4 linked regions of the Homo sapiens genome follow. The protein of the gene in region 2 interacts with the protein of the main gene of each other region in a biochemical or structural test. Each region holds a gene or a part of one and is shown on either strand. Other genes may lie near its edges. The genes, in order: LIMS1, NCK2, ERBB2 and EGFR.

Evidence for each region.
Region 1: the proteins of NCK2 (region 2) and LIMS1 form a complex in vitro, tested with the Homo sapiens proteins (4 studies listed by BioGRID and IntAct, with this or other methods).
Region 3: the proteins of NCK2 (region 2) and ERBB2 form a complex in vitro, tested with the Homo sapiens proteins (2 studies listed by BioGRID and IntAct, with this or other methods).
Region 4: the proteins of NCK2 (region 2) and EGFR form a complex in vitro, tested with the Homo sapiens proteins (2 studies listed by BioGRID).

Annotation. Positions count from the first base shown.
Region 1 is NC_000002.12:108,537,336-108,544,581, forward strand, and holds part of LIMS1 (LIM and senescent cell antigen-like-containing domain protein 1), read left to right. Parts: intron 1-7,246. UniProt on the Homo sapiens protein: Within the IPP (ILK-PINCH-PARVIN) complex, binds to F-actin, promoting F-actin bundling, a process required to generate force for actin cytoskeleton reorganization and subsequent dynamic cell adhesion events such as cell spreading and migration.
Region 2 is NC_000002.12:105,747,885-105,755,130, reverse strand, and holds part of NCK2 (cytoplasmic protein NCK2), read right to left. Parts: intron 1-7,246. UniProt on the Homo sapiens protein: Adapter protein which associates with tyrosine-phosphorylated growth factor receptors or their cellular substrates. Maintains low levels of EIF2S1 phosphorylation by promoting its dephosphorylation by PP1.
Region 3 is NC_000017.11:39,695,158-39,703,204, reverse strand, and holds the start of ERBB2 (receptor tyrosine-protein kinase erbB-2 isoform a precursor), read right to left. Parts: upstream 3,142-8,047; 5' UTR 2,967-3,141; coding exon 2,894-2,966; intron 416-2,893; exon of another isoform or gene 291-415; intron 1-290. UniProt on the Homo sapiens protein: Protein tyrosine kinase that is part of several cell surface receptor complexes, but that apparently needs a coreceptor for ligand binding. Essential component of a neuregulin-receptor complex, although neuregulins do not interact with it alone.
Region 4 is NC_000007.14:55,196,852-55,204,097, forward strand, and holds part of EGFR (epidermal growth factor receptor isoform a precursor), read left to right. Parts: intron 1-1,865; coding exon 1,866-2,012; intron 2,013-3,464; coding exon 3,465-3,562; intron 3,563-4,336; coding exon 4,337-4,504; intron 4,505-4,883; coding exon 4,884-4,931; intron 4,932-5,665; coding exon 5,666-5,774; coding exon of another isoform or gene 5,775-5,914; exon of another isoform or gene 5,915-6,225; intron 6,226-7,246. UniProt on the Homo sapiens protein: Receptor tyrosine kinase binding ligands of the EGF family and activating several signaling cascades to convert extracellular cues into appropriate cellular responses.

The sequences.
Region 1 (7,246 bases), 2.8 Mb from region 2:
GGATATTTAAAAAGGAACAAATACAAGGTTTCTCTTAAAATTGCTCTTGAATGCTTGTGGTAGTGTGTGCCTTGTAGTTTTGGCTAGTTTTAGTAGGATGTAATAACTAAGACTTGGACCACCATGGAAGAAGCAACTTTCTGCCTTTCAGGATTTTCCCTGATAAGAAAATGGCCAGTGCCATTATGAAGAGGGACAATGCCATGGGCCTAAGTGTATTCACACTTTTCAGTGCTCTGTGCCTGTTTGTATGGTGAGAAAATCGAACTGTTGATTTTTAAGAAAGCTAAGGAAAGTTTGGTGGTACAAAAGATCATTTCAGTTCTGGTGGTTCCGGTTTTTGCAGGCTTAGAGAAAACTGTCCATCAGGATTGTGCTGTCTTGATTTTATTTGATCATTCCCACCCTTTTCCCTTTGCTGTAGCCCCTTGACCTGTCTCCTGGGCAGTTCTTTCCTTTGCTAAATGTGAGTACAACAAGTAGGCTTTCCTTTCCTCCTAGAGAGGGGGACCTTGGAGCCCCTCCACTGGGTCAGAGAAACTTCCATAGCTGCAGCAGATCAGTAACAGGAGAGCCGAGCTTTACTCTGAAAGCCTCTATTTTCAATAATGTTGTGTTTGCTCTTTGGATAATCATTTAAATAAATAAACCTCAGTATAGGTCATGTTCTTACCTAGGTTTGCACTTAAATAGAAGGAAAAACATCTCAAACCATTTTGTTAGTTTTATAGTTCTCGTAACTACACTTTAAGCTGTGGTTTTCCACCCACAGGGATGTCATCTACATTATATGCTGGACTGTTGCCACATTGTCTTCCAAAAACTTTAATTTTAAGACACTTGAGAAGCAGGAGCTGCACTACCTGTTGCCATATACTGTGCATTCTTCAGCAACAGAGGTTTCCTTTTCACTCTTTCTGATATAATCTCATCTCTTTTATTTGATCATATCACACATTTCCACCCTGGAGCTTACTGCAGGAATGAGTAAGGGAGTCATTTTCCTGCATCTTTTTTCACGTTGGAGCACGTTTTGGAGCTTGATGAGTCTTCAGTGACATTTAACAGTGGGGCGGGACAGCTGCAGATAAAGCAAGTGCTGAAGAGTGCATTCTGTGAGAGGTAGGAAGAAAGGTGAAGGCAGTAGTTCAGCTGCTGGGAGTATGTGCTTGGCAGTGGGAGGCACGGGACTCAGCATCAGCACACCAGGAATCCAGGGCTTTCAGGATGTCTGAGTAGCAGGCAAGGTAAAGCAAGATAACAGACAACATGCATTTACAAGTAATGTTTACACATACTTTCCCTTTCTACAAAAATGGAATCATAGTCATACTATTCTGCAATTGCTTTTTTTAGTATTAAAAAAGTTACGGGAAAACATGCAAAACAAAATTTACTATTTTAACCATTTTTGAGTGTACAGTTCTGTGGCATTATGTACATTGACGTTGCTGTGCAACCATCACTACCCTTCCTTCCAAGAACTTTTTCATCTTCCCAAACTGAAACTCTGTGACCAGTAAATACCAACTCCCCATTTCTTGCAATTGCTTTTTTACTTCAACAAGCTGTCTTAGAGCGGTGTATCTGGGTTTACCTTATGTTTTTTAACCTTAGTTTTAATGGCTGCATAGTATTTCACAGTGTACATGTGATATGATTTGTACATCCAGTCCTTGACTAGTGGTTATTTGGGTTCTATTTTTTAATTATCACAAACACTTTGAACATCTCTGCCAGAGTGTTTTTTGTTTTGTTTTGTTTTTGAGACAAGGTCTCACTCTGTCACCCAGGCTGGAGTAAAGTGGTGCAATCATGGCTCACTGCAGCCTCAACCTCCTGGGGTCAGGTGATCCTTTCACCTTAGACTTCTGAGTAGCTGGGACAACAGGTACATGCCACTATGCCCGGCTAATATTTTGTATTTTTTGTAGTGACAGGGTTTCCCCATCTTGCCCAGCCTAGTGTTGAATTCCTGGCCTCAAGCGATCCGCCCTTCTCGGCCTCTCAAAGTTCTGGGATTACAGGCGCGAGCCACTGCACCCAGCTACCAGAGTTTTCATAGCTTTCTGAGTGTAGAGTTAGTATGTGCATGAGTGTTTGGGTCCATGTTCTAGTCCTAGTTCTGTCCCTTCATGGCTCTTTGACTTTGGCCCTGTCAGCGTCTTTAAGCCTCAGATTCTTAATTTATAAAATAATCCCACCTGTCTCAGAGGTTGTTGTGATAACTAAATATGAAGGCAAATGCAAATATTTCTGAAAGGATACCGATGAAATTTTTAGTGATTGTTGCTTCTGGAGAGGGAGTCTAGGCACCTGAGAATCCAGGATGAGAGGGACATTTTTTGTTGTATAGCTTTTTGTACTGTTTTGATTTTTAAAATCGTGTATGTTTTCATTTTTAAACCATTTAACACCATGCCAGGAACATAGTAGATGCTCAATGAAGTCATCATTTCCCATCATCCTGGTTCTTTTCCTCCGGACTTATACTGCTGCTAATGGCACCTAACATGGTTGCTTTTGTTTCTTCCTGTCCTTCCCTCCCTATAGCCACCTTCTTGCTGAGTTCTTACCTTCGAATTTTCTCTTGAATCCATCGTTTTCTTTTTTCACTCCTTTCTTACTGATTTCCTTTTCACCCTGGTTCTGAAAATCTTTCAAATGAACATAAGATGATAGTATTAAGACTGGGAAAGACTTGAGAGAATGCAGAGCCAGTGTCCTGTGGACTGTAAACTTATTCCAACTGGCTTGAAAAAAAAAATCTATGCACATACTAAGTGTTTGAAGTGGAACAAATGATGTTTTGTGAATGTTTCTAATTTTCATTTAACAGGTGATAAAGTACAGATTCCTTTTTTTTTTTTTTTTTTTTTTTGAGACGGAGTCTTGCTCTGTTGCCCAGGCTGGAGTGCAGTGGCATGATCTCGGCTCACTGCAGGCTCCGCCTCCCGGGTTCAAGTCATTCTCCTGCCTCAGCTTCCCAAGTAGCTAGGACTACAGGCGCCTGCCACAACACCTGGCTAATTTTTTGTATTTTTAGTAAAGACGGAGTTTCACCGTGTTAGCCAGGATGGTCTCTACCTCCTGACCTTGTGATCTGCCCGCCTCGGCCTCCCAAAGTGCTGGGATTACAGACTTGAGCCACCGCGCCTGGCTGATAAAGTACAGATTCTTTTAAAGGGTTTGTGGAATTCGTGGTAGTATTTATATAGTGCATGCTTTATCTGTTAACGTGCTAAAAAGACAATCATGGTGACATGAAGATCTAAGAAAATTTATTTAACATTTAAAAAGTGGGTTTATATGTGAAAAAGTTGGAACCTACTGAACTCATGCACTTTAGTGGGTCCCCTGCATTAGCCCTTTATTTAAATACACTGCTTCTTTATTTTACAGGACAGGATTTGCCTAGAAGGTAAAATAGTTTATTCAAGGCCGAAAGTCAGTTAACAGCAGGGTTAGGAATACAGCCCAAGATGTGGTTGTATTGTGGGGTCTCCTCTGCTATATTACGTTGGTTTGCTCTGTTACTTTATTCACATTGCATTGTTACAGTTTGTTGTGTGTATATATTTTATCTTTTTGTCTACAGTATAGAGTAAATACCTTGAGGACCAAGACCTATAGCTGAGCCCATTAACATAGTACATTTGGAAATGTCTGAATGAATTATGGATATTGGCCCAGAATTGTTCTATTACAGGTGTCCTGGATGTCAGTCTCTTTCAAGTGATTCCTTTTGAAGAACACTTCAGAAGTGTTGTTGAAGACCTGGTATTCCTAGCCACATGTGCTGGTGCTTGCAACTTTTTCCTCCCCAGAGAGATCCCTTCCTATTGACGGGCTTCCTTACCAATGCATCAGCTGAGTGACAAATGTTACCAACTACTTAAACAGATATGTTTATTTCTCATTGGTAAATGTAGCTGTTGTTTTGTTTTTGTTTGCTTACTTTTAAAGCTGGGCACATTGCTGTCCATTTTAAAATTTGCCTTGTTAATACAGTGAGGAAGGGAGGGAGAATGGACATTGGGTAGGCAGTTGCAGCTTTTGCCACAGCTAGCTGTTTCTCCTTCTCAGTGCAGTAGATTCAACAGGATTTGTTTTTCTGTGCAGGTACAGTGCAGGTGCACCTGACTGATCTGTCATCCATGTTGGTTTCAGATTTTTCTAAAGAACTACTTTGGTCACATGTTTTCAAAATATTGAGAAGCTGCTTATTGCCTGTCAAGTAGGTCCAAACTCCAGCGCCTGGAATTTAAGGCTGTTTGTGATCTGGCCCAACCCATCTTCATAGCCTTGTCACACACTGTTTCCTTAGCCTTTGTCTCTCTAACCCACTGCCTTTTTCTGAAAATGATGATTTCCTGCCTCAGTGCTGTTCATGCCCTTCTCTGGGCCTGGAAAATCATCATCTTTTGTGTTTTCTTGGCAGCTGGAACAAAATTGCCGCTTCTCTCATAAAATAACGAATTCCTGGAGCATTAATTTAGCCCCCGCTGTGTAGTAGGGAATTAGGGATTCAGAGCTTTTTCTGTTTTCCCAAAGCATTTTGAATTCTTTTTTGGTAATTACCAATTTCTGTTTTGTTTTATAGTTTTTTGTATATATGTCTAAGCTTTTCTGCCAAAGTGTAATCTCTGGAAGTAAAGGAATGTCTTAATCAAATTTGTTAAATATCCAAAGAAAAACAAGCTGCACAGTAGGCTTTATTTCTCCTTTTATTTGTTGTTAGTGAATCGAAAAGTTCAGGGCTAGCTCTGTTTAGTGTCTTTGACGTTGTTTGAATAAATTCACAAAACTTTGAGTAAAACAGGATCATTTTCTTTGGTTTAGCTTGACTCTACAGTGTATTACAGACTGCTGGCAGAGACCCAACATCATGAAACATTTAGGAGAAATTCAGATGATATTTAGGCATCCTTGTTTAGTTTCCTCCTAGGCCACTGTTTTGGAAACTCGGTTAGTCATAACCACCTTCTCTTAATTACCTACTTCCACACAAATACCTTAAGGATATTGTTTTATATAATCTTACCATCACAGCCACACCACGAAGTAGGATCTTTATATCTATTTTACAGATAAGGAAACCAAGCTCAAGAGGTTAAGAACTCACCAAGTCATACAATTAGTGACAGCTGGGATTCATACCGAAGTGCCCTGTAGAGCCCTGTGTCTCCTCACTTCATGGCACTGGTCAAGAAGAGGTCACAGCTCGCTAATTGTTTTTCCAAGTCTCAAGGCTTTTTCTTGGCATGTCCAGACAACCTATCCAGTTTTACTCCCTCCTACCCTTACGCTTATATCATCTTATTGCCAACCATACCACAGTCCTTCTTTCTGAACTTGATTTTTGTTACTCTGCTAGGAGTAGCCTTTCCTTTTTTAAGGGGGTAGGAGTTCCCAAGTCTTACAACTCAAGTCCCAGCTTAAACTCCTCTGTCTTGAAGATGACTTCCTTGGCTGCTTCAACACCTATTAGGCTTTCTTTTCTTGACCTCCCGGAGAATGCATTGGGTAAGATTCAGTTCTCTACCCAAATTTAATGTGTCTGTATTTGTGTGCAACACACAAACTTCATTATTTTTATTTGAACTCTTGGCTGTGCTTGCATATGTGAAAGTGATATTTACAAATTTTGGAACACATCTTTCAATACAATTTGTGTCCATTATATACACTGTACTATGCTATAGGGCATGGAGTATACAGCTGTAATAGAGTGAAGGACACATTGTCTAATATTGTAGCTTTGTGTGTACAAGTCCCATAAGAGACTGTTTAAAAAAGTCTTTTAGAAATTTCACTGGGCATGGTGGCTCACACCTGTAATCTCAGCACTTTGGGAGGCTGAGGTGAGAGGATCGCTTGAGCCCAGGAGTTCAAGATGAGCCTGGGCAACATAGTGGTACCTCATCTCTACAAAAAATTTTAAAATTAGCTGGGCATGGTGGCACGTGCCCGTAGTCCTGTGGCAGGCTAGGTCTCACTAATGCAGGCCTCCATAACAACTGTTTCAATACTGACTGACTGGTTAAGTGAAATAGTAAAAGCTAAACAAGTCAGTGCCCTTATCAAAGGCTGGAGTGTAACAGAAACCTACCAAGAGTTTTGCCTAGGCCTTTCCTGGGCCTTAAAGCATGAGAAAATAACAAAAGAATTCTTAACAGGACCCTTTTAGGATTAAACAAATTTTATTGTGGGTCTGAAAAAACTCCCCAAACCTCTGTGATTTAGTAGGAGACAAGGGTAATCACCTCAGCACCTGGACCCATTTAGATGAAGTAAATCTACTGAGGATCCAGAAGAAGGTCTCCAGCACTCAGACCTTAGTTATAGATTAAAAGAAGTTAATCACTTACGTCTTCAGGTGAATGCACACTTACCTGTAGACATATAGCTTAGAAGGTATATAAGCTCTGGAAAACTGCAATTTTGAGTTGGTCTGGTGATAATTTCCAGGCCTTCTCCCTGTAACTGGTTGCAGAAATAAAAACTCTCTTCCTCCCCTGTTCATCTGCATCTCGTTATTGGGCCACGAGAAATAGCAGCCCAACCCTCAGTTTGGTCCAGGAAGAGTCCCAGCTACTCAGGAGGCTGAGGTGGGAGGATCACTTGAGCCTGGGAGGTTGAGTCTTGCCACTGCACTCCAGCCTGGGCAACACAGCAAGACTCTTTCTTTCTCTGTCTTTCTCTCCCTCTCTCTTTTCTCTCTTCTCTCTTTCCCTGTCTCTCTCAAAAAAAGTAAAAAGAAATTTAAAGGAGGAAGTGGTAATTTGTTAGTAGTTATTATAGATTAGTTGTTACTTATTGAAGACATTAGGACCAGTCAAATATTATTGGATTCTTAGCAGGTAGAGGTGTATTGGTCATCGTAGGGTTCAACCAGAGGCCTGGCTTATTTGGAATGTTGTAGGGAAAATTCAAGAATCAGGGAGAACAGTGCTCTCAAAACATGGGCTGCAGACTTCTAATGGCATGGGGTTCATGCTAAAAATGCTGATTGCTCAGCCTCATCCCATACTTCTTGAGGGATGTATGTCATGAAATCTATGCTTTTTAATTTTTTATTATGGAGGATTTCAAACATATACAAAAATACAGAGAATAATATGTCTCTGTGTGTTTCTGCTCAGCTTCAACAATTATTATTTTATTTATTTATTTTTGAGGCGATGTTTTTGCTCTGTTGTCCAGGCTGGAGTACACTGGTGCTCTTGGCTCATTGCAACCTCTG
Region 2 (7,246 bases):
AAGCTAGGAAGCTCCTAAGAAGACAATAACAGAAGCACATAAAAGAAAAGTCATATGAGGGCAGTAACAAAGACAGATGGGAAACACACACACTATTAAGATAAATGGTGTTCAGGGCGGGAGAGACGGGGTGAGGGGAGTCACACACAAAAAAGTGAGGGGAGAACCAGAAGAATGGAAAGAAAGAATGGAAATGGCTGGAAAAAAAAAATCTGTTTCTATAACCATCTTGCTAGATTCTGCAACCAAGGTTGTTTCACTTTTTTTTAATCGTTTGATGAAAATTCACTCTTCACCTATATTAAATTTCCCAAAAACTGTCTCAAAATAACTCCCTGAATCCCTTGTTATTTCTTGGTCTCTTAAAAATATTCAAGTAGCTTGTGCTTTTTATGTCAATGTCTCCAAGCTGGCTTCCATCATGCAGAGCAGTTTAAAAAAAAAAAAAAAAAGTTGTTGGGGGAGCTGCTTTCTTACCAATGCAGCAGCTCCCCCCAACCTCCCACAGACACACACAAACAGGAATACAAGCTTTTAAAGTGATTGTCCTTAAAATGAAGACAGCTGATGAGAGGGAAAGCATGAAAGAGACAGCAACTGCTCTCCTCTCCTGTAGCCAGGCTCATAAGTGACATAATTAAAATATTTGTTGACTTGCAGACATCCTTAAACACGCAACCAAAATTCTTAAGATATTAAATGGGAGACATAACCGTTAAGGAAAATCGAAGGAGACATTGATGGACTTTGTCCTCTAAGATGGGCATGGGCGTCTTTCTAGGCATCTCCCTGTGATCTCACCACTTTCTAACTTACTTTTCACTTCTCACTTCCTGGCTGCCCCCACCATTGCTGGGAAATTAAGCATGTTGAAGTAAACAATTCTTTGCCACCACATATCCTGGAACCTGCTACGTGTAGAAGTGGCCACATGAGAGGTAGTGTGACTGCAAATCTAAACCTGTGAGTTGAAAGAAACTGCCCAAATTGCAGCCCCTCTGAAACTTGGAACATGCAGGAGCTTCTCCCAACAGAGACGCCAGACTCACCGTCCTATCTCAGTCCCATCTGCTCCAGGGAGGGCTGCTCAACACTCTGATGGCCCCAGTGGCCCTCCTAACACAAAAGGGTAGGTTCGAGAAGCTGGCACAGACAACTCACTTGGAAGAGCAGCCAGTGTCAGAGTTCCCATCAGGACCTGTAGCAGCAGTCTCCCAAGAATCTACATTTGGACTTGACCTGGCCTCTCTCACAACCTCAGAAGCAGATTTCAAAGCCACCTTGGAATTCTTCAAGACCTTCCCAGATGTCATAAAAGCACAAAGGAAAAGGATTTGGTATGTCCTGCTACAAGGTTTTCAGCAAGAACCTACCTGCCTACCTTCACTTCAACAACAGCAACTCATTAAGGAAAAACAGAAGCAGCAAAAATGGCCTTGTGCAAGCTATTCCAACAGCACAAAAGTCCGGGGGCCACTTGGAAGAGTGAGAAGACACACACTCCTGTTTTCTCAGCCCCCAGTGTGGAGGAGACAAGGGTGGGGACCCACCACACAGCTACTGATGAAGAGGCACATCACACAGGCATTTACAATGGCACCTGCATGACCACTTGAGCTAATACACTGTGACTACAACAGAAAATACTCCCCCTCATCCAGTGCCACTGCAGTTCCCTCCAGCAGCGGTTCTCCCCAGGGAATGCTGGTGTTTCCTGCAGAATTGGAGACTTGGGCAGGTGGAGGACCACCAGCCTACGGAACATAGCAAGGGGGCTGGGGGAGAGGAGCAGCCAGGCCAATGGTCCTCAGTGATGACCATCCAAGGCTTCCCCTCCTCCAAGGTACCAGTTATTCATTAGGCCCTTCCAAAGTCCAGGGCCTTCCCCAACCACTTGGCTGATAAGGCGTTCCCAGAATGAACCTGTATGCAAGCTACACTCCCTATCAATGATTTTCCATCAATGTTTCTCAAATCTTACACCATAATAAAAGTTTACAGTTCTGTTTTATGTATTTTCAGATACATCTTAATGAAGGGATGGTGGCTAGCTTGGTCAGAGTCTAGCTGTGGAACCTAAGACATGGCAGCCTCAGTGCCTCCCTTTCCTTAGCGATGAAGATACAAACAGAAAGTACCACACGTTCTGTTGGTGAGGACTCAATGAGTTATTACATGGAAAGTGCTTAGAACAGTGATTACAATGTGTGTGTGTGTGTCTGTGTCCGTGTGGGAGAGAAGCTAATGTTCACTTTAAAAATACATGATTTTAGCTTGTACTTAACATGTTATCAGAAATATGAATACTACAGATGACTGGATAAAGAAAATAGACTATTCAGCCATAAAAAAACAATGAAATCATATCTTTTGCAGCAACACAGATGGAACTGGAGGCCATTATCCAGACGGAACCAGAGACTTGAAGGGTGATGGGGTAGGAAGGGGTGGATGATGAGAGATTACTCAATGGGTACAATGTATGTTATTTGAGTGATGGATACAATAAAGGTCCTGAATTCACCCTTAGGCAATTTATGTAACAAAATAACACCTGTACCCCATCACTGTATACAATGTTGTTTTTTACCTTTCCTATGGTGCTGAACACATTTTTTAAAAGGAAATGTGTTGAATACTGATATACAAAAATGTTATTTTACACTGGTAACTTCTAGAATTCAAACCACATTTTAAGATATTTGTAAAATGAACAAGGTATTTTGATGATAGATATTAGTTTTAACTGAATCTGATTTTAGTGCTCTAAAACATCATGTGCTGAGTGTCTGAAGGATGACATTACTCCTCATATTTAAAAAGGTTACACCTTTCCCAGTAAAGCATAATAATAATGACCATTATAATTATTCTACATTGTTTCCACTTTGTCTCTTTAGCTATCTCAACTTTGGAAAACAGACAGCAAATGAGGCTTAAATCATGAAAAGTGTATAGACTCACACTCCGCAACAAGGCTGCCACTAGTCGCGTGTGGCCAAGGCCAATCAAAATGCAGCGAGAGGCAGCCAAGAGGTGCAGTAAACGTATATACTATATGCTGAATTTCAAAGCCCTCACGCAAATAAAAGAATATGAGTTATCTTATTAATTACATTTTATGTTGATTACACATAGAGTTTATATATATATTGGGCAAAATATAGGATGAAAATTAATAATACTTGTTTGGTTTTACATTTTTAATGTGGCTACCAGAACATTATGATTACATCTGGGGCTTGCATTTGTGGTTCACATTGTATTTCAAGGGGTCAGCACTGCTCTTGACAATCCATCAGTTCAAATGGCATTTGCAGGGAGACAGTCCATATTAAAACACACATACGCACCATTTTCTGCAGTTAGTCTCTTCTCCTCCCATGACAGAGAGCTGGGCCCATGCTCAGTTCCATGCAAAGCTGTAGTGGGGTAGCCCTGCCATTACTGCACAGGAGAACCCTGAACCAGTCCCAGTGGAGAGAGTCTTTAAAAACAAACTGATTATAAACTTAGTTTTGTTATCACAATTAGCAAACCATCAGTGGGTGGCCACAGATGACTTGTAGCTCAGCATGTGTGTATATGGGGAAGGGGATATTTAGATGCTGGGAGAAACAGAGAGGCAGCCCAGTCGTGCAAGCCCATGACTGCCATGCTGGGGACTTGAGTCACTGACCCAAGTACGATGGAGAGCCACCGTGTGCAGGTCATGGCCAGACCTGACTGTCAGGGTGCAGTCACCCTGGGATGGATTGGCAGGAATGGTTAAAAAGTGGTTTTGATGTCCAGGGGAAACAGAAAAAGGACAGCAGGGCTGAGATGTTAGATCTTTTGGAGGTAGAATCAATAGGGGTTGATAACTAGTTGGGAGCTGAGGGAGAATTCAAGGATAACCGAGTGAGTCGGTGATGGGGAATATAACTGAGAAGGCGGGCAGGTTGCAGGAGAAGCTGCAAATGGTTTGGGATGGTGGAAATGACCACTAAGAACTTGGATAATTCATATGAATGTGAATGAATGAGCAAACAAAGCATCAATGAACATACAGATCTGGAGCTAGAGGGAGGTCAGTCATGCAGGCATTGCCCCTGCCTTATGTCTGAACAAGGCAAAATGGCCTAGGTCAGAAACATTCCAGCCACGCTCAGGGTGCACCTCACCACCGTCATGCACATTCTGCTAAGGGATGTTTGCTCATGTGGCAAAGACTGCACGATCACAGAGATGGCAGGCTCAGAGGAGACGGCCTCTCCACCCTGGCTGCCATTGGCCCCACCTCTTGCTTTGCTCTCTTCATCCAGGGTTCAGAAAAAACTTTCCTTTGCATATCACTGATATTTTATCATGGTCTCAATTAAAGACAAACCAACCCCCAAATAAGTGTCTACCTACCTAAGTTGAAGAGAAGTTTCCATAAATGAAATCAAGTCAAGATTTTTCTCTCTCTTCAATCACTCTACTTAAAACCTTTCCAGCCTTTGGAAGGCCAGCACCAAGGCTTGTTCCCTGTTATGGGGTGCTACAACCAATATATAAAGAGCTGACGTTCCCTCCTTACTTGTGACTACTCTAACCATCCCTGGTAGGTGTCCCCAAATAAACAGAGATCCCAGATCTGGATGATGGGAGCACCAGGTCTTCCTAAAAGCATCAGCCCTGTTGTGGAACCTAGACAGACACACTGGGAGTGGCTGAATTGTCCACCCTAAATTCATATGGTAAAGCCCTAACCCCTAAGTGACTATATTTGGAGACAGGACGCTTCAGGAGGCAATTAAGGTTAAAAAAGGTCATAAATAAGGTTAAAAAAGGTCACCATAAGGGTGGGGCCCTCATCCAACAGGACAGATGTTCTTATAAGAGGAAGAAACACCAGACCTCTCTCTCAGTGCACTCACAGAAGGAAGGCTACGTGAGTGAGGACACAAGAAGACGAGCCAGGAAGAGACACTCACCAGAAACCAGCCCTGCCGGCCCCGGGGTCATGGACTTCCAGCCTCCAGAACTGTGAGAAAATAAATGTCTGCAGCTTTAGCCACCCATTCTGTTGTTGTTGTTTTGTGTGTGTGTGTGTGTGTGTGTGTGTGTGTTTGTTTGCTTTTGAGACAGGGTCTCACGCTGTCACCCAGGAGTGCAGTGGTGTGATCTTGGCTCACTGCAACCTCCGCCTCCTGGGTTCAAGCAATTCGCGTGACTCAGCCTCCCGAGTAGCTGGGATTACAGCCGTGAGCCACTGCGCCCGGCCTCTGTGTGTTATTCTCTTAAGGCAGCTGGAGCTGACTAATACACGCACTAAACAGGAATAAGCTTTCTGAACTTGAGGAGGCTTTCCAGGGTAACCCTGGCCCATAACCAGGATGTGGGGACAAGAGAGACTGACATTGCTCCTGCCGGCCTCCCCTCACACCGCTCAACCTCAGTCAACTCACATCCAGAATCTGCTCCACCAATATCTACACACAGCTGCGACACGGCAAAGGCAGATACCCAAGGACACTGTGTTCTGTAAACTGCCTCACAAAAAAACAACTCTACCCAGCAACACGTTGGTGTTCCTCATGTATGGCCTGCAGAAGGACTTAACCTAAATTCAAGCTCTGTCATCCCCAGTCTCCTACCTAGAAATGAGGGCCAGAACCAAGTGCACCATGTTATTCGACTATTAAATATGATGGTGTATGTGAAGAGGACTTTGCAAACAATGAATGAGCGTGCATGCATTAGTACATGTCATTCTCTCATCATGGCATTTTCGGTCTTCACTAACAATTTGGCAACGTAAGCACCCCAGCTTCCAAAATTGTCTCAAAAGAAGCAACTGCAATACTTAAAATTCTGAGTGCACTTGAAGCTTCTTCTCTTAAAAACATTACCAATACAACAGTAGAAAGAAGGGGTGACACAAATAACTAACTTACCAGGCCAGGATCACAAACGGTCTGCCCAGCGTTTTGAATTCAGGTTGATAGGAACAGACTAACCTACAAAAGTAAACCATTCAGCCAGCCCACCAGGTAATACAGTTGAGTATGGGGTTGGCTTTGTTTTTTTGTTGTTGTTGTTGCTGTTGTTGTTTTTAAATGTAGCTTCAGGACTACAAATGACTCACATGACAGAAAATTTGCCAAATAGAGAGGCCAACAGACCAAATTCTCCCATTGTCTGGACATCCTGAGGTCAAAGCCTTCCACAGTAGACAGAAGTTCTGAGATTTACAAGAATGCTGGAGGTCTCTTACCACTTGAATCTCAGTGGGAGGCTAGAGCCCCAATATTAACAGGCTGGGCACTCATTATTCACATATTCAATAAGTATTTGTTGCACACTCATTGTGTATAAGTGGCAAGACCAGTCTGCCCCCAAGCGGTTCAGAATCTAGTAAAGAAAAGATGAAGGCAAAAAAACCATAGGGCAGGGTATGGTGGCTCTGGCCTGTAATCCCAGTACTTTTGGAGGTCAAGGCAGGAGGCTCACTTGAGCCCAGGAGTTTGAGACCAGCCTTGGCAAAGCAGCAAGACCCTGTCTCTACAAAATAAAAATAAAAATAAAAATAAAAAAATTCACTGAGCATGGTGGTGCACACCCGTAGTCCCAGCTACTCGGAGGCTGAGGTGGGAAGATTGCCTGAGGTGGGAAGATTGCCTGAACCCAGAAGCTCGAGGATGCAGTGAGCTGTGATCATGCTACTGTACTCCAGCCTGGGTGACAGGGTGAAACCCTGCCTTAAAAAAAGAAAAAAAACAACTGCAGGAAAGAATGTCACAGATGACAAATCAGGGACACAAAGAAAGTGCTGTGGAAGTTTAAAGATGATGCCATCCCCTCTAGTTTGGAGTTGATAAGATGTGGGGAAGAAAAGAAGTAAGAGACGACCCTTGGGATGAGTAAGAACTCAGGACACGGAGGAGACTGAGCCAAGGAGTTGAGAGGGAACACAGAGGCTGGTCAGGGACAGTGACACCGTATGACATCACTGTGACACTGCTACCTCAATCAAAATAACTTTCATTTCCACAGTTTCAAGGACTAAGATTCTTGAGGTAGGAATGTATGTGCCAGTACACATGTGGATGTGTGTCACTGGGCAGAGGTAATACTTGCTAACGTTCATTTACCTTTAGAAATAAACATACTTTGGGAAATGTTCAAAGGAAAATGCAGGAAAAGAAAAGAGTCTAATTTTTTAATTGTGCTACTAAATGGCCTAAAGAAATGCAAAACTGTTTTTGCTTTAGCTGCACAC
Region 3 (8,047 bases), on a different chromosome or scaffold from region 2:
CAGCCCTGTGTGTCAACGTGGCCTCTGTCCCCTCCTGCCCGCAGCCCCCTGTCATGCTGGTAGGGCCCAAAAGGAAGACAGGCATTGGCTGGACAGGAAGGGAGAGGACTCTGAAGTCAAGAGGGAACCTCAGGGCCCCCAGCTCAGCTCCACTTTCTACAGCCTAGAGAAGTGGATGGAAAGGTCATTCGCCTGAACAAGAGGAGCGCTTCTCCTCCCATCTGGCCACCTGCCTGCCCCTAAGGCTTTGTTCAACCCATTATTGTTGGCTGGAATAAGACTCTAACCACCTCTTAATGCCTCCTCTTCAGAGTCCAAAAATTCCCTGGACATTACTGGGTAGCTGGGAGCCTTGGATAAGTTGCTTCATTTCTCTGAACTTCCATTTTCTCATCTGTGCACCTACTTCACAGGACTGTCACAGAGATTAAATGAAAGCATGGATAAAAACCTAGCATATAGGAAGTACACCGTACATTTCTTAAAAGTTAAGACAAGACAGGTTCATACAGCAGGAATATGGGTAATCCCAAACCACGAGAAAATTAAACATGCTTTGTGTTTGACTTTGGAATGCCACGTATTTTTTCTTTTTACATTTGATCCCTATCTTTTCAATTGTTTTTTTCTTGACAAATAAAATGAGTACTTTCCCCAAGTATAGTAAAGAGAGGAGGCTGTTGGAAGAATCATACTGGAATTAAAATATGAAGGAGTTCTGCAAGATTAAAAGGATGTATTTGCTGCAATTTGTAAAACCCATACCTCTAAGAAAGGATTTCAGAAAAATCCTGACCCCTCTGGGGCTCCCCCTAGGCCTCCCCTTCCCCCACATTCCTGCCCCAGACCTCACCCCTTGGGTAAAATCTGGGTGCTGGAGGCAGCTGGGTGGTATACTTTTTTTCTGAAACGGAGTCTCACACTGTCACCCAGGCTGGAGAGCATTTGCAATCACAGCTCACTGCAAGCCTCAACTTCCTGGGCTCAGGTGATCCTCCTGCCTCAGCCTCCGGAGTAGCTGGGACTACAGGCACGTGTAATCACATCCAACTAATTTTTGTATTTTTTGTACAGAGTTTTGCCTTGTTGCCCAGGCTGTGCAATGACTTTTTAACTAACTCCTGCACAACACAATCAATAGTGCAGGTTGAGGGGTGAGGACATGAGGAGGCCCCATCCAGAGAACCCAGCCCTCAAATCCAGCTCTGCAGCAACTGCCATTCCCTGATCAACTCCCAGCCCAAGGTGAGGAAGGGCAGCAGCTCAGCCTGACAGCTCAGTATGGCCTCACCCTTCTCATCAGAAGATGAGAGGTGAAGATGCTTGTCTGGGAAACAGGGAGGGCAAGGATGTACTCCCTGGAAGAGAGGAACCTTCTTCCTCAGCAAGAAGGCGTGGCCATAGAAGGCTACCTCCCTCTGTTTATGGCAGATCTGGCCCAGCACCTTAAGGGAGTTCCTGCAGAGGACAGAGTTCAGCCTGTGTCCCCAAGTCAGCAGAGAGACTGCTGTTTGGCAACACAAAGCCCAGACACACAAATACAAAGACCACACAACTGAGGAACACCCTGGCGTAGACCTGCAGAGATAACACGGCCATGCACTCACTCACAGAGGGCCCCTCGGGCAACACACAGCCACGATGACACCCACTCCCTCCCCAGACCCTCTGACCTATGGAGACCACCCACGACTCCCAGAACACTTTCATTTTGTCTCCCCTGCAGCCCAGTGACTCAGGGAGCAGTGTCCCTCATTGCTCCAGGTGCACTCATCCATATAGCGATTTCGAATGCATGGTTGGGGGTCGCACTGCCTGGGGTCCCATCTTGACCCCACCACTTACTAGCTGCTACTCAACCTCTGGACTGCTACTCAGTCCAGAATGCTGGCAGAACTTCCACTATAGGGGTGTTCTAGGATTAAAGGAGAATGCATGCAAAACACCACAAACAGTTCCTGGCAGAGTATACCTGGCCCAGGCTATATGTTAGCTTTTATGATTAATGCACACAGGTGGACAGATGGGTCAGGATACACACTGCCCCCACTCACCCTTCCCCACGCACAGCACCAAGGAAAAGGCAGCAGAACAACGCAGCCCTCCCTAGGCTCCCATCTGGCCTTATTTCTTAGCTTCCTTCTCTGGGAACTCTCCCACTTTACACCCCAAGAAACCCACCCCCACCCCTCCATGGTCCACGCGCTCCAAAAGTCACAGAGCACAGTCCCTAAGCTGGCCCCAAGAATCTGTTCAAAGCAAACGTCTCCCCCGCCCCCAACCCAGACCCCAGCAAGAGGCCACCCTCCGGGCCACCCTTTCCTCCCCGGCTCTGGTTGGGACAGGTTGCTATGCCACCCTCCACTCCACCACACACACACACACCCGACCCCGCCAGAAGCAGGAGCAACCAAACCAAAATCGTCTGAAGGGGAGCGGGGAGGGGCTGGAGGAGGGGCAGGGCAGAGGACCCCCCCAAGGAATCCAGCCCAGGCCAGTCCGGAGGCGGAGGCTGCCAACTGGAAAGGCTTTGAGAAAGCTTGAGGGGGCTCAAGAAGGGGGGAAACGCGCGCGCGCGCTCTACGCAATACACCCTTTGCGGGAAAACTTTCTGAACAATTTCAGAGAACTTCTTTGACAAGTTCCCGGAGCCCCTCGGAGCCTGGAAAGCGCCAGTCTCTTGGATGGGCCATCTCGAGCCGCTGCCGTGTAACTGCCCCCTCCCGCCCGAGGGCCCCAGGGCCCGGCTGCCCTGAGCGTCTCGACTGTCCACAACTTCGGGATAGGAGAGCTCGTCCGGGCCCCTCTGGCCCCGCCGGCCGCGGGACCTCGGCGGGGCATCCACAGGGCAGGGTCCCGCCGCTGCTCCGTCCCCTCCCCACACCAGACCCACCTTGGGTGCTCGCGGCTCCGGGGGGCAAGAGGGCGAGGAGGAGCCCCCAGCGGCACAAGGCCGCCAGCTCCATGGTGCTCACTGCGGCTCCGGCCCCATGGCTCCGGCTGGACCCGGCTGGGAGGGCGCGGGGCGCGGGGTGCTGCGAGGGGTGGGGGCCGGGCGCGCGGCGCAGTAAAGGGCCCCGTGGGAAGGGGCGCGCGGCTGCCCGGGGGGCTCCCCTGGTTTCTCCGGTCCCAATGGAGGGGAATCTCAGCTTCACAACTTCATTCTTATACTTCCTCAAGCAGCCCTCCTCCTCCACCTCCTCCTTCTCCTGTGATTGGGAGCAAGCGCGCTCCCAGCTCGCCCCCTCCAACTGCATTCCAACAAGTCTGGGAGTGGCAACTCCCAGCTTCACTTTCTCCCTCTCTTCGCGCAGGCCTGGGTGCGTCCCTCCTAGCGCCGGGACGCCTGGGTTGCCTGCAGCCGTTCTCACACTTTTCCTCGGAGAATCCCTAAATGCAGAGGCTGGTGACTCTGCCCCCTCCCCCGGAGTCCGGGATAAATTCCCTAGGCTGCCACTCTTAACACCCTTTTAAGTCTCAGGTTTTATCTTAAACTTTCCTGGGGAGCTTGCATCCTACTCCATCCCAAGCCTATTTGTTTTAATATCAAATAATGGTTTTCCCACCACATCCTCTAGTAAAATTGATAGTCAAGGAGGGGGATGTGTTGTGTTTACCTTGTGGCTTCCAGGACCCCCGGGGCATATCTTCTGGAATCTTTGAAGTATCTGAAAAGCATGATCTTAAGAGGGTCTACAAATTTGGGAGGAGACAGTCACATCGAAAGGACTTTTTTTTTTTTTTAAACGAACTTTTGCTCTTGTTGCCCAGGCTGGAGAGCAATGGCGCGATCTCTGCTCACCACAACCTCTGCCTCCCTGGTTCAAGTGATTCTCCTGCCTCAGCCTCCCGAGCAGCTGGGATTACAGGCATGTGCCACCATGACCAGCTAATTTTTTGTATTTTTAGTAAAGACAGGGTTTCTCCACGTTGGTGAGGCTGGTCTTGAACTCCCAACCTCAGGTGATCCTCCCGCCTCAGCCTCCCAAAGTGCTGGAATTACAACCACGAGCAACTGCACCCAGCCCAAAAAGACTTCTATCTCAATTCTTCAAAATGCACCCTTCTTGCTTATTTAAGGAGGCACCCAGCACCCAATGCATTCAAGGTTTCTTCTTTGCCCCTTGCCTTCTATTAGCCTGCTTAATTCCACTTCTCAACCACATTCTATTTGGAGCCCCTGACCCTATTCCTTAGGCCTAGTGGTAGGGGTGGGGATGGAAGGAAGACTTTTTTTTTTTTTTTTAATTTCAACAAGATATTGCATGGGACATATTTATACTAACAAATTATTCATTGTTTATCTGAAATTCAAATTTAACTGGGCCTCCTTATTTTTATGTGCTAAATTTGGCAGTTCTAGTTGGAATGCCCCAGCCAAGAATGCAGCTATACTGGTCAAGAAGGGATCAAAGGCACCTATCAGGGACTGGAGAATGAAGGACACCAGCATCTCTTTCTCTCTTCCCTCCCCCCCATCTCCCACACCTCTTTACAGGTATACACTTGCATTTCTAAACTTGCTTCCATGTGCTGAGCACACTTAAAGCAGGCACCTCTTGTGGGACAGGTTGCTATGCCATCCTAGGGAGTTGAGAAACAGGGGCCTCTGGGACCAAGAGGACCTGGGTTCAAATCTTGAATCTGGCCAGTCGCGGTGGCTCACACCTGTAATTCCAGCACTTTGGGAGGCCGAGGCAGGCAGATCACGAGGTCAGGAGATCGAGACCATCCTGGCTAACACGGTGAAACCCTGTCTCTGCTAAAAATACAAAAAATTAGCCAGGTGTGGTGGCGGGTGCCTGTAGTCCCAGCTACTCAGGAGGCTGAGGCAGGAGAATGGCGTGAACCTGGGAGGCAGAGCTTGCAGTGAGCTGAGATTGCGCCTCTGCACTCCAGCCTGGGAGACAGAGTGAGACTCCGTGTCAAAAAAAAAAAAAAAAATCTTGACTCTATTCCATATCAGTCATGTCACCTTGGGCAAGTGACTGAGCATCTCTGGTCTCAGTTGGCTCATCTGTAAAACAGCATCTGACATACTATGCTGGGGTTAAAGGAGATAATGCTCTGGAAGCACTCAGCGCAATACTTGGCACATAATAATTGCTCAATAAATGGTCCCAGATTTAGTTATACTGGGGCAGATCTAGGTTTTGTGGGGCCTGAAGCTTATATAATTTGGGAAACTCTCTTTAAGAAAGTAATACAAAGTTGGCCGAGTATGGCGGCTCATGCCTGTAATCCCAGCACTTTGGGAGGCCAAGACAGGCAGATCACGAGGTCAGGAGTTCGAGACCAGCCTGGCCAACATGACAAAACCCCATCTCTACTAAAAGTACAAAAATTAACTAGGTGTGGTGGCAGGCACCTGTAATCCCAGCTACTCGGGAGGCTGAGGCAGGAGAATTGCTTGAACTCAGAGGGCAGAGGTTGCAGTGAGCTGAGATCTTGCCACTGCACTCCAGCCTGGGTGACAGAGTAAGACTCCATTGAAAGAAAGAAAGAGAGCAAGAGAGAGAAAGGAATTGAACAGAAAAAGACCCTAGCACGGCTGGGTGCGGTGGCTCATGCCTGTAATTGCAGCACTTTGGGAGGCCAAGGCAGGTGGATCACCTGAGGTCGGGAGTTTGGTACCAGCCTGACCAACATGGAGAAACCCTGTCTCTACTAAAAACACAAAATTAGCCGGGCATGGTGGCGCATGCCTGTAATCCCAGCTACTCGGGAAGGCTGAGGCAGGTGAATCGCTTGAACCTGGGAAGCGGAGGTTGCGGTGAGCCAAGATCGCGCCATTGTACTCCAGCCTGGGCAACAAGAGCGAAACTCTGTCTCAAAAAAAAAAAAAAAAAACAAAACAAAAAAACAACCCTAGCACATTCATATAGTAAGGATAAGGTGGAGTTTTGTACAGGTATCCAGAGTGATAATGTAAAATTAACTTATTCCTTGGACCGCTGTCACAAACATTCGAGAAATATTGCTGTGTATGGAACACAGCAGCCCTTCTGGATGGCCATCAATATCCCTATTTTCTCTTGAGCTGGTGTTAGGGTTAGGGTGAGGATCAGGGGAACTGAGGTAAGCAATTTGCCCAGGATGTCTTAGGGCTAGAGAGAAAAGTTGGGCATGTATCAAAACTGACCCCTTACTCTCACCCCATCATCCAGCCCAGGACCTGGTCAACCTGCCTCTCAGTCCTGCAGCTTACAGCCCTGCGGGAAGAGGATGCGCTGACCTGGCTCCAGGAGTCACTGGTTCATCACACCACACCTTGGAGGGCTTGCACCTGGATGAGTGTGCAGGCAGCCTTAGAGGCCATCGGGATGTTAGGATCAGGGTTAGAGGTGTCCTTTCTCCCCAGGCCCCACCCCTGCCCTGCTGTTGTGTCCGGAAAGGTTAGTCCAGTCAGGAAAGCTACTGTGGACGCCATGCTTCATTGGACCCTACTCTGTGCCACTCTGACCTACAGCCACGTTCCTCAGAACACTGAGTCCCCAAGACTCCAGAGGAGGCAGGTGTTATCATTCCCCATTTTGCAGAAGAGGAACCTTGAGCCTTGAGATTCCACGAGCTAAAGGAACTTTCCCAAGGTCACAGAGCTGAGCTGGGAACTGAGCCATGGCAGATTTGGCTTCACCCATTACCCTCAAGAGCCCCAGTCAAGGGTACCAAGAGGGGAGACAGAGGAAAGAAGTCCAGGTAACTGTAGGTCCCTCCCTCTACAAAGATCCTGCTTCCCCCCTTCACTCTCCACCCCCCCGCCCAAGCAAACCCATCCTCTCTGCATCCCAAATCCCAGGAAGAAACCCGGACTGGCAGACAATGCCCAGTCCCGGTGGGCGGTAGAGAGGGTGGAGCAAGCTGGAGAGGGGGCTGGAGTGGGGATGGGGGGAGGAGCTGGGGTCAGAACTCACGCCCTGGGGAGGAGGCTCGAGAGGGGCCGAGCCTCTGAAAAAGAATGAGCCCATTCAGAGCTGGGAAGCCAGAGGAAAAAACCTCGTCTGGTGTCTGACAAGAGGAGAGGAAGGGGGGCAGGGGTGGGCGCTGCTGATTCGATTTCCTCCTTAACTGTCCCTCCAGCAGGGCCTGGCAGGAGAGCCCAGGAAAGAGGATGTCTGAGGGACAAAGACAGCGAGGGGGACCCTCAGGGAAGGGAAAGGGGTGCTGGTGAGAGGGGTCTAGCTAGGGGGCTGGGGAGAGGGAGTGGGAACAGAGTGGGGCTGACTGCGGGACAGAGGGCAGCAAACTCAGATCAGGGCAGATGCGTGTGTTTTGCCCAAGACCCCAGCCTGTGGGCAGTGGAGTGACCACTGACACTGAAGAGGCAGGACAGGGCTCTAGCTTCCGAGGGTGACCTCTAAGTCAACAGGCTGGGGCTGCAACCAGCGGCCTGTGAAATGCCAGTCAATCATTGACCAGCCATGGAGACTGGGGGGCACAGGAGACGTGTGTGTGTGTGTGTGTGTGTGTGTGTGTGTGTGTGTGTGTGTGTGTGTGTGTATGCATGCACCAAAGTCTCCTCCCTCTACCTACTTCACCAGCCAGCTTGGGGTCAGAGGACTGAAAACAAACAGAAATCGGGAGGAGTCGTCTGGTCCACAGTCCGATGTCCAGGCCACAAACTGAGGCCTACCCCACAGTGCCTTGAGGCTGAGGCACAGGTTGCTGGGGAAGTGACTGTAGGAATTAGTTCATTGGAAAGAGTTCCTCAGAGTAGGCTTGAGGTGTCCCTTTGGGCCAAAGGAGGATAACTTAGAAGCTTCTGATAGGAAAATTGGTCCTTCCTAGGGGTGGCCCTTGATGAGCACTTGTATCCTAACCATGGGGAGGCCACTCCCTGAGCCCAGGATTAGCCCTAGTCTCCAGGACAGCAAAGGGGCAGAGCCAAGCTTGCCAGACACTCTGACCCTGGGCCCCTCTTACCCACATCTCAGGAATGCAGGCCCAGGCCCCAGGAGTAGCTTTTATCTCTCCCCAGGCTGCTCTGCTGAAACAAAAAGCACTCTTCTGTCCTGCGACTCACCTCACTTTTGTGCATGTCCACAAC
Region 4 (7,246 bases), on a different chromosome or scaffold from region 2:
TATTCTGTTTCATTGGTCTGTATGTCTGTTTCTGTACTAGTACCATGCTGTTTTGGTTACTGTATCCCTGTAGTTTAAAGTCAGGTAGCATCATGCTTCCAGCTTTGTTCTTTTTGCTTAGGATTGCCTTGGCAATTCAGGCTCTTTTTTGGTTCCATGTGAATTTTTAAATTGTATTTTCTAGTTCTGTGAAGAATCTCATTGGTAGTGTGATAGGAGTAACATTGAATCTATAAAATACTTTGGGCAGTATAGTCATTTTAATGATATTGATTCTTTCTATCCATGAGCATGGAATGTTTTTCCATTTGTTTGTGTCATCTCTGATTTCTTTAAGCAGTGTTTTGTGGTTCTTATTGTAGAGATCTTTCACTTTCCTGGTTTACTGTATTTCTAGGTATTTTATTCTTTTTGTGGCAATTGTGAATTGAATTGCATTCCTGATTTGGTTCTCAGCTTGACTGTTGTTGGCATATTGGAATGCTAATTATTTTTGTACATTGATTTTGTACAACTGAGTCTTCACTGAAGTTGTTTATCAGCTTAAGGGGTTTTGGGTCAAGACTATGGGGTTTTCTAGATATAGGATCATGTCATCTGCAAACAGAGATAGCTGTTTTCCTCTCTTCCTGTTTGGATGTCCATTATTTCTTTCTCTCACCTGATTTATCTGGCCAGGACTTCCAATACTATGTTAAATAGGAGTGTTGAGAGAGGGAATCCTTGTCTTGTGTCAATTTTCAAGGGGAATGTTTTCAACTTTTGCCCATTCAATATGATGTTGGCTGTGGGTTTGCCATAGATGGCTAATATGTTGAGGTTTGTTCTTTAAATACCTAGTTTATTGAGAATTTTAAACATGTTGAATTTTATTGAGAGCCTTTTCTGCATCTATTGAGATGATCATGTGGCTTTTGTCCTTAGTTCTGTTTGTGTGGTGAATCACATTTATTGATTTGCATATGTTGAACCAATCTTGCATCCCAGGGATGAAGCCGACTTGATTGTGGTGGCTTAAGCTTTTTGATGTGCTGCTGGATTCGATTTGCCAGTATTTTGTTGAGGATTTTTATGTCTATGTTCATCAGAGATATTGGCCTGAAGTTTTCTTTTTTTGTTGTATCTCTGCCAAGCTTTGGTATCAGGATGACATTGGCCTCATAGAATGAGTTAAGGAAGAGTCCCTCCTTCTCAATTTTTTTGGAATAGTTTCAGTAGGAATGGTACCAGCTTTTTTTGTACATCTTGTAGAATTTGGCTATGAATCCATCTAGTCTTAGGCTTTGTTTTGGTTGGTAGGCTATTTATTACTGATTCAATTTTGGAGCTCATTATTGGTCTGTTCAGGGATTCAGTTTCTTCCTGAGGTTTTTATTTTTATCAAATGGAACTTAAGCTTTTTCATTTCCAATTTTTTTATGATCTAAAAATGTGCAGTTTACAGCCCTGTTCAGAATCTGCATCTTCCTCATTCTGCAGATACAGGTCCCTCAGAGCAGGTGACTGAGTGTGTATCCTGTCTGGAGCATAATACTTATGCTAGTAGAGTTACTGTTGTCTTTATTGTTAATTACCAAAGTTTACCACTTATCAGTCACTTACTACTTGCTGGGCATTGCACTAAGCATTTCAGTTGTATTATCTTGTTGGGTCCTTACAGCAATCCTGTGAAACAGATACTGCTATTACCCCACTTTATAGAGAGGTAGACTGAGGCTTCCAGCATTGAAGCAAATTGCCCAAGACTACAGAAATGTAGGTTTCTAAACATCAAGAAACAGTAACCAGTAATGATGACTAAAGCAAGGGATTGTGATTGTTCATTCATGATCCCACTGCCTTCTTTTCTTGCTTCATCCTCTCAGGGGTGACTGTTTGGGAGTTGATGACCTTTGGATCCAAGCCATATGACGGAATCCCTGCCAGCGAGATCTCCTCCATCCTGGAGAAAGGAGAACGCCTCCCTCAGCCACCCATATGTACCATCGATGTCTACATGATCATGGTCAAGTGTGAGTGACTGGTGGGTCTGTCCACACTGCCTAGCTGAGCCTTGGTGGCTGCTCTTAGCCAAACAGCTGAGGCCTTTGCATCCCTGGAGAAATGTCATCACATTACTTAAGGCAGGCACACAAATCCAGAAACATCTGTAAATACCCCTTCAAGCATTCTTTTAAAGACACTTCTTGACTCATTGGGCAGTATGACCTGACATTTGCCCATGTTTGCAAGCAAATAAATAAAACTAAAGTCTTCCGCAAGCCATTACACCAAAATATTCTATTCGCTGAGTTACTCAATGAAATACCGAGTTGCCCTATATTTTGAAGCCTGTTACCAGAGAGACTGAATGTTTTTAAATGCATGGCAGTGAGTAACAACATAAGGCTAATAGAGTCAACATTTCTGCTTTGACTTAAACCTTTTAAACCAGTGGATTTATGTGAAGTCTCTGCAGTGTGGCATTTAAACATTTCAATCTAAATAAGAGTGTGTAATTTGATTGATGCTATTATTCTACCAGATTCACGAGTGCAGTGGGCTCTGGAGGTAGCATTACATGCATGGGATGAGCATTTGCAAAAGAAAGTTGTATAGGGAATATGACAGAGCCAAGTTAATGTAAATATTAATGCCTTTCTGAACTCTAGGCCACAGAGTTGATCTTTTTTAACTTCCTTGGTTTGGGCTAAGGAAGCTGTGATCCAGAGAAGCCACGTGATTTGTCTAAGGTCACATAGCAGTCTGGCCTAAAATAGCTTGATATGCTGTGGATGGAAAATAAATGTGATCCCTCAAGAGGCATGAGGATTTCCAGGCAGTAGCCATACCTCCAAATTGTTTAATCTGGATTTAGATTGTTGGGTAGTCACATGCAGCAGCACAGTTAACAGTGTGTCCTCCTGTGGAAGTTGCCAGCACAGCCAGCCCTCTCACTTGCATGCATGCCCACCAGCCTTCTCACTTGCATGCATGCCCACTGGGTATGTGCTGTACTGGAGACGCCGGGGGTAGGGGCCCAGTCCCAACCCCAAATTCTTTAAAGCCTATTTTTCTAAGTTGCATCTGGTTTCCTACCTGAAGGAATGCTAAGGGTGGATGTTGAGTGAGGACCTTGGTGCAGGGCACCCTGCAGTCAGGATAGTTCATGGAGAGCAATTGTACAGACCCACACTGCTCCATCCCCTCAGGCGTAACACAGGATGCTGACCCCAGGAAGAGTGGGCGTAGAAAAACTAGAGGGCATTATTGTTATTCTGATTCAAATGTACAGTGCTGGCATGGTCTTTAAACAGTAACCAGTACTAGCTGGCCAAGACAGAAAAGTCTACCACAAAGACTTGGTTCTTTCATCACTTATTTGACTGGAAGTGTCGCATCACCAATGCCTTCTTTAAGCAATGCCATCTTTATCATTTCTTCCAGTGTTCTAATTGCACTGTTTTTTCTCATTCCTTCCCCAGGCTGGATGATAGACGCAGATAGTCGCCCAAAGTTCCGTGAGTTGATCATCGAATTCTCCAAAATGGCCCGAGACCCCCAGCGCTACCTTGTCATTCAGGTACAAATTGCAGTCTGTGCTTCCATTGGGAAGAGTCCCTCTAATGAGCATCTCATGTCACTGTGTTCTGTCACATGCCAGCCTGGCCTCCCTGTGTCCCAGATCGCATTATTAAACCCTCCAGCGCATTAGAGCAAGCCTCAGTAAGGCGCAGGCCACATCGTGAACTAAGCAGCATCCGTGAGTGGGGCCCACCCAACTCCATCTCCCCCTCCCCGTCTGAACTCTCCTCTGGTGCTCGTCCTCACTGTCCGGCTAGCCAAAGCCTCAGCTGGGTCTAAGAGAGAAGCATGGTCTATTGGGCTTTGGTGTCAGGCAGACGTGGCTTCACACCCCTGACTCTCCACTTCTTCGCATCACCCAGGCAGCCGATCCACCTATCTCCTTCCATAACACAGGAATACCAAAACCAAGCTCACAGGATTGTCTCAAAGATTCAATAAAATATGTTGCAAAATACGCTCCCTAACACCTCACAGCAAGGTGCACACTCGATGAATGCTGCAGCTTCTTCCCTTTCTGTTTCCTCAGAAGCTATTTGAATCTCATGTAGGGGCTTTCAAGCATCAAAGGATGGTTCATGTTTTATTTTAAGGCACCCACATCATGTCATGAGGGGAGGCAGCTATAATTTAGAGAACCAAGGGGGATTTCATTATAACAAAATTGGCAAACACACAGGCACCTGCTGGCAATAGACCCCTGCTCCTATAGCCAAGAAGTGGAATAGCATCTCTACGGGCCATTCTAATAGCCTCAAAATCTCTGCACCAGGGGGATGAAAGAATGCATTTGCCAAGTCCTACAGACTCCAACTTCTACCGTGCCCTGATGGATGAAGAAGACATGGACGACGTGGTGGATGCCGACGAGTACCTCATCCCACAGCAGGGCTTCTTCAGCAGCCCCTCCACGTCACGGACTCCCCTCCTGAGCTCTCTGGTATGAAATCTCTGTCTCTCTCTCTCTCTCAAGCTGTGTCTACTCATTTGAACAAATTGAATTTTAGGGAAAATAACCATCTAGTGAAACTCACATGGATATGAAGTCAATTTTAACCAAATGGTAAAATCAAAATCAAAATAAATTAAGTGTATTAATTATTTTGTTGCATTGCAACAACTTGATTGTAAGCCTTTTAGGTCCACTATGGAATGTAATTAAATCAAAACTAAACCTAGTTGCTCTAAAACTAACGATTAAGACAAAAATTAAACACCTTCACAATATACCCTCCATGAGGCACACCACCTGCATTCAGGAAAAGTGGATGAGATGTGGTACAAGCATTCCATGGGCAACTTCTCTGTTTCTTTTTCAGAGTGCAACCAGCAACAATTCCACCGTGGCTTGCATTGATAGAAATGGGGTATGTATGAACACCTTATAAGCCAGAATTTACAGCTCTCCACTATGGCTCTATTTTACATGGAAAATGCCTTAACCTAAATAATTTTAACCCAGATAATCTTGAGTTTTCTTCCTGTGTGGGTTTTTCCCTGCACGGCTGTCACGCCTCACAGTGCCGTTCAAAGCGTGACTCCTGGACCAGTAGTAGCATCGCCTGGCCTTGTTAGAAACGCCATTTTTCAGGCCACTGCCCCAGTTTGACCAAATCAGGACCTCTGGGGGTGGCACCCAGTAGTCTATGTTTGAGCCACTTTCCAGGTGATGCTGATGTCTGTTGAAGTGTGAGGCCGTGGTCTAGACCGCACTGTGCCATGCAGAAACCACTAGCCACATGTGGCTACTTCAACTTAAATGTTAATGAGTTAAAATGAAATAAAATATAAAATTCAGTTTCTCACACATGTGAAGTGTCCAGTAGCCACACGTGGCTAGTGGTGACCGTATTGAAGAGCACCGCTCATAGCACACCTCCCTCACTGCGGAAAGTTCTGCTGTACAGCACCCAGCACAGCCCTGCTGCCCACCCTGCAGCCTGTGGCCCAGTAGCACCAGCACCCACCAGGGTGCAGACTCTCAGGCCTGCCCAACCTACTAATCAGAACCAGCATCTCAAGGAGATCTCGGGTGATTTTTGCAAACACTGAAGTTGGGGCAGCCCTGACCGGAGTAACCTTCCCTCATTTCCTCCTGCAGCTGCAAAGCTGTCCCATCAAGGAAGACAGCTTCTTGCAGCGATACAGCTCAGACCCCACAGGCGCCTTGACTGAGGACAGCATAGACGACACCTTCCTCCCAGTGCCTGGTGAGTGGCTTGTCTGGAAACAGTCCTGCTCCTCAACCTCCTCGACCCACTCAGCAGCAGCCAGTCTCCAGTGTCCAAGCCAGGTGCTCCCTCCAGCATCTCCAGAGGGGGAAACAGTGGCAGATTTGCAGACACAGTGAAGGGCGTAAGGAGCAGATAAACACATGACCGAGCCTGCACAAGCTCTTTGTTGTGTCTGGTTGTTTGCTGTACCTCTGTTGTAAGAATGAATCTGCAAAATTTCTAGCTTATGAAGCAAATCACGGACATACACATCTGTGTGTGTGAGTGTTCATGATGTGTGTACATCTGTGTATGTGTGTGTGTGTATGTGTGTGTTTGTGACAGATTTGATCCCTGTTCTCTCTGCTGGCTCTATCTTGACCTGTGAAACGTATATTTAACTAATTAAATATTAGTTAATATTAATAAATTTTAAGCTTTATCCAGATACTCATAACCTGCTAACACACACACATATACACACACATACACATACACACATATACACACACCACACACATACACAGACACCACACACATACCATACACAGACACATACACATGCACACACATATACACACACACCTCAAATACATACACACCACACACACATACATGTATACACACATACACACACCACACATACACCACAAAAACCCCACACACATACACATATACACACCACACACACCACATACACACACGTATACACACATATATACACACATACACCATGCATACATACACACCACACATACATACAGACACACCACACACACGTACACACAACACACAACACAGACACGTACACACACTACAGACATGTATGCACACATACACACACACCACACATACATACACACAGACACATATACACTACACACACCATTACATACACACGTACACATACACCACACACACCACACATACACACACCACACACACATACGCCACACACACACCACAAAAACCGCACACACATACAAACATATACACACTACACCACACATACACACACACACCACACACCACACACACACATACACACACCACACACACCACACATACACGCACCACACATACACACACGTAGACACACCACACACACCACAGAAACACACATTAACACACCACATACACATATGTATGTGCATATACACACCCACACCCCACACACACATGTATAAAGATTTAGATATATATAAAACATATGTTATATATATGTTGATGTAATATCTAATATCTATATATCTAATATGTAGTTTATTAGCTATCTAATATCTATGTCATATATATCAAAATCTTTATATATAAAAATATGTAGAAATCTTTATACATATGTTATATGTATATAAAGATTTAGATATATAACATATGTAAGTTATATATATGTTAGTGTAATATCTAATATATAGTTTATTGGCTATCTAATATAATATAAACAGATTATCAATATTATAAGCTATTAG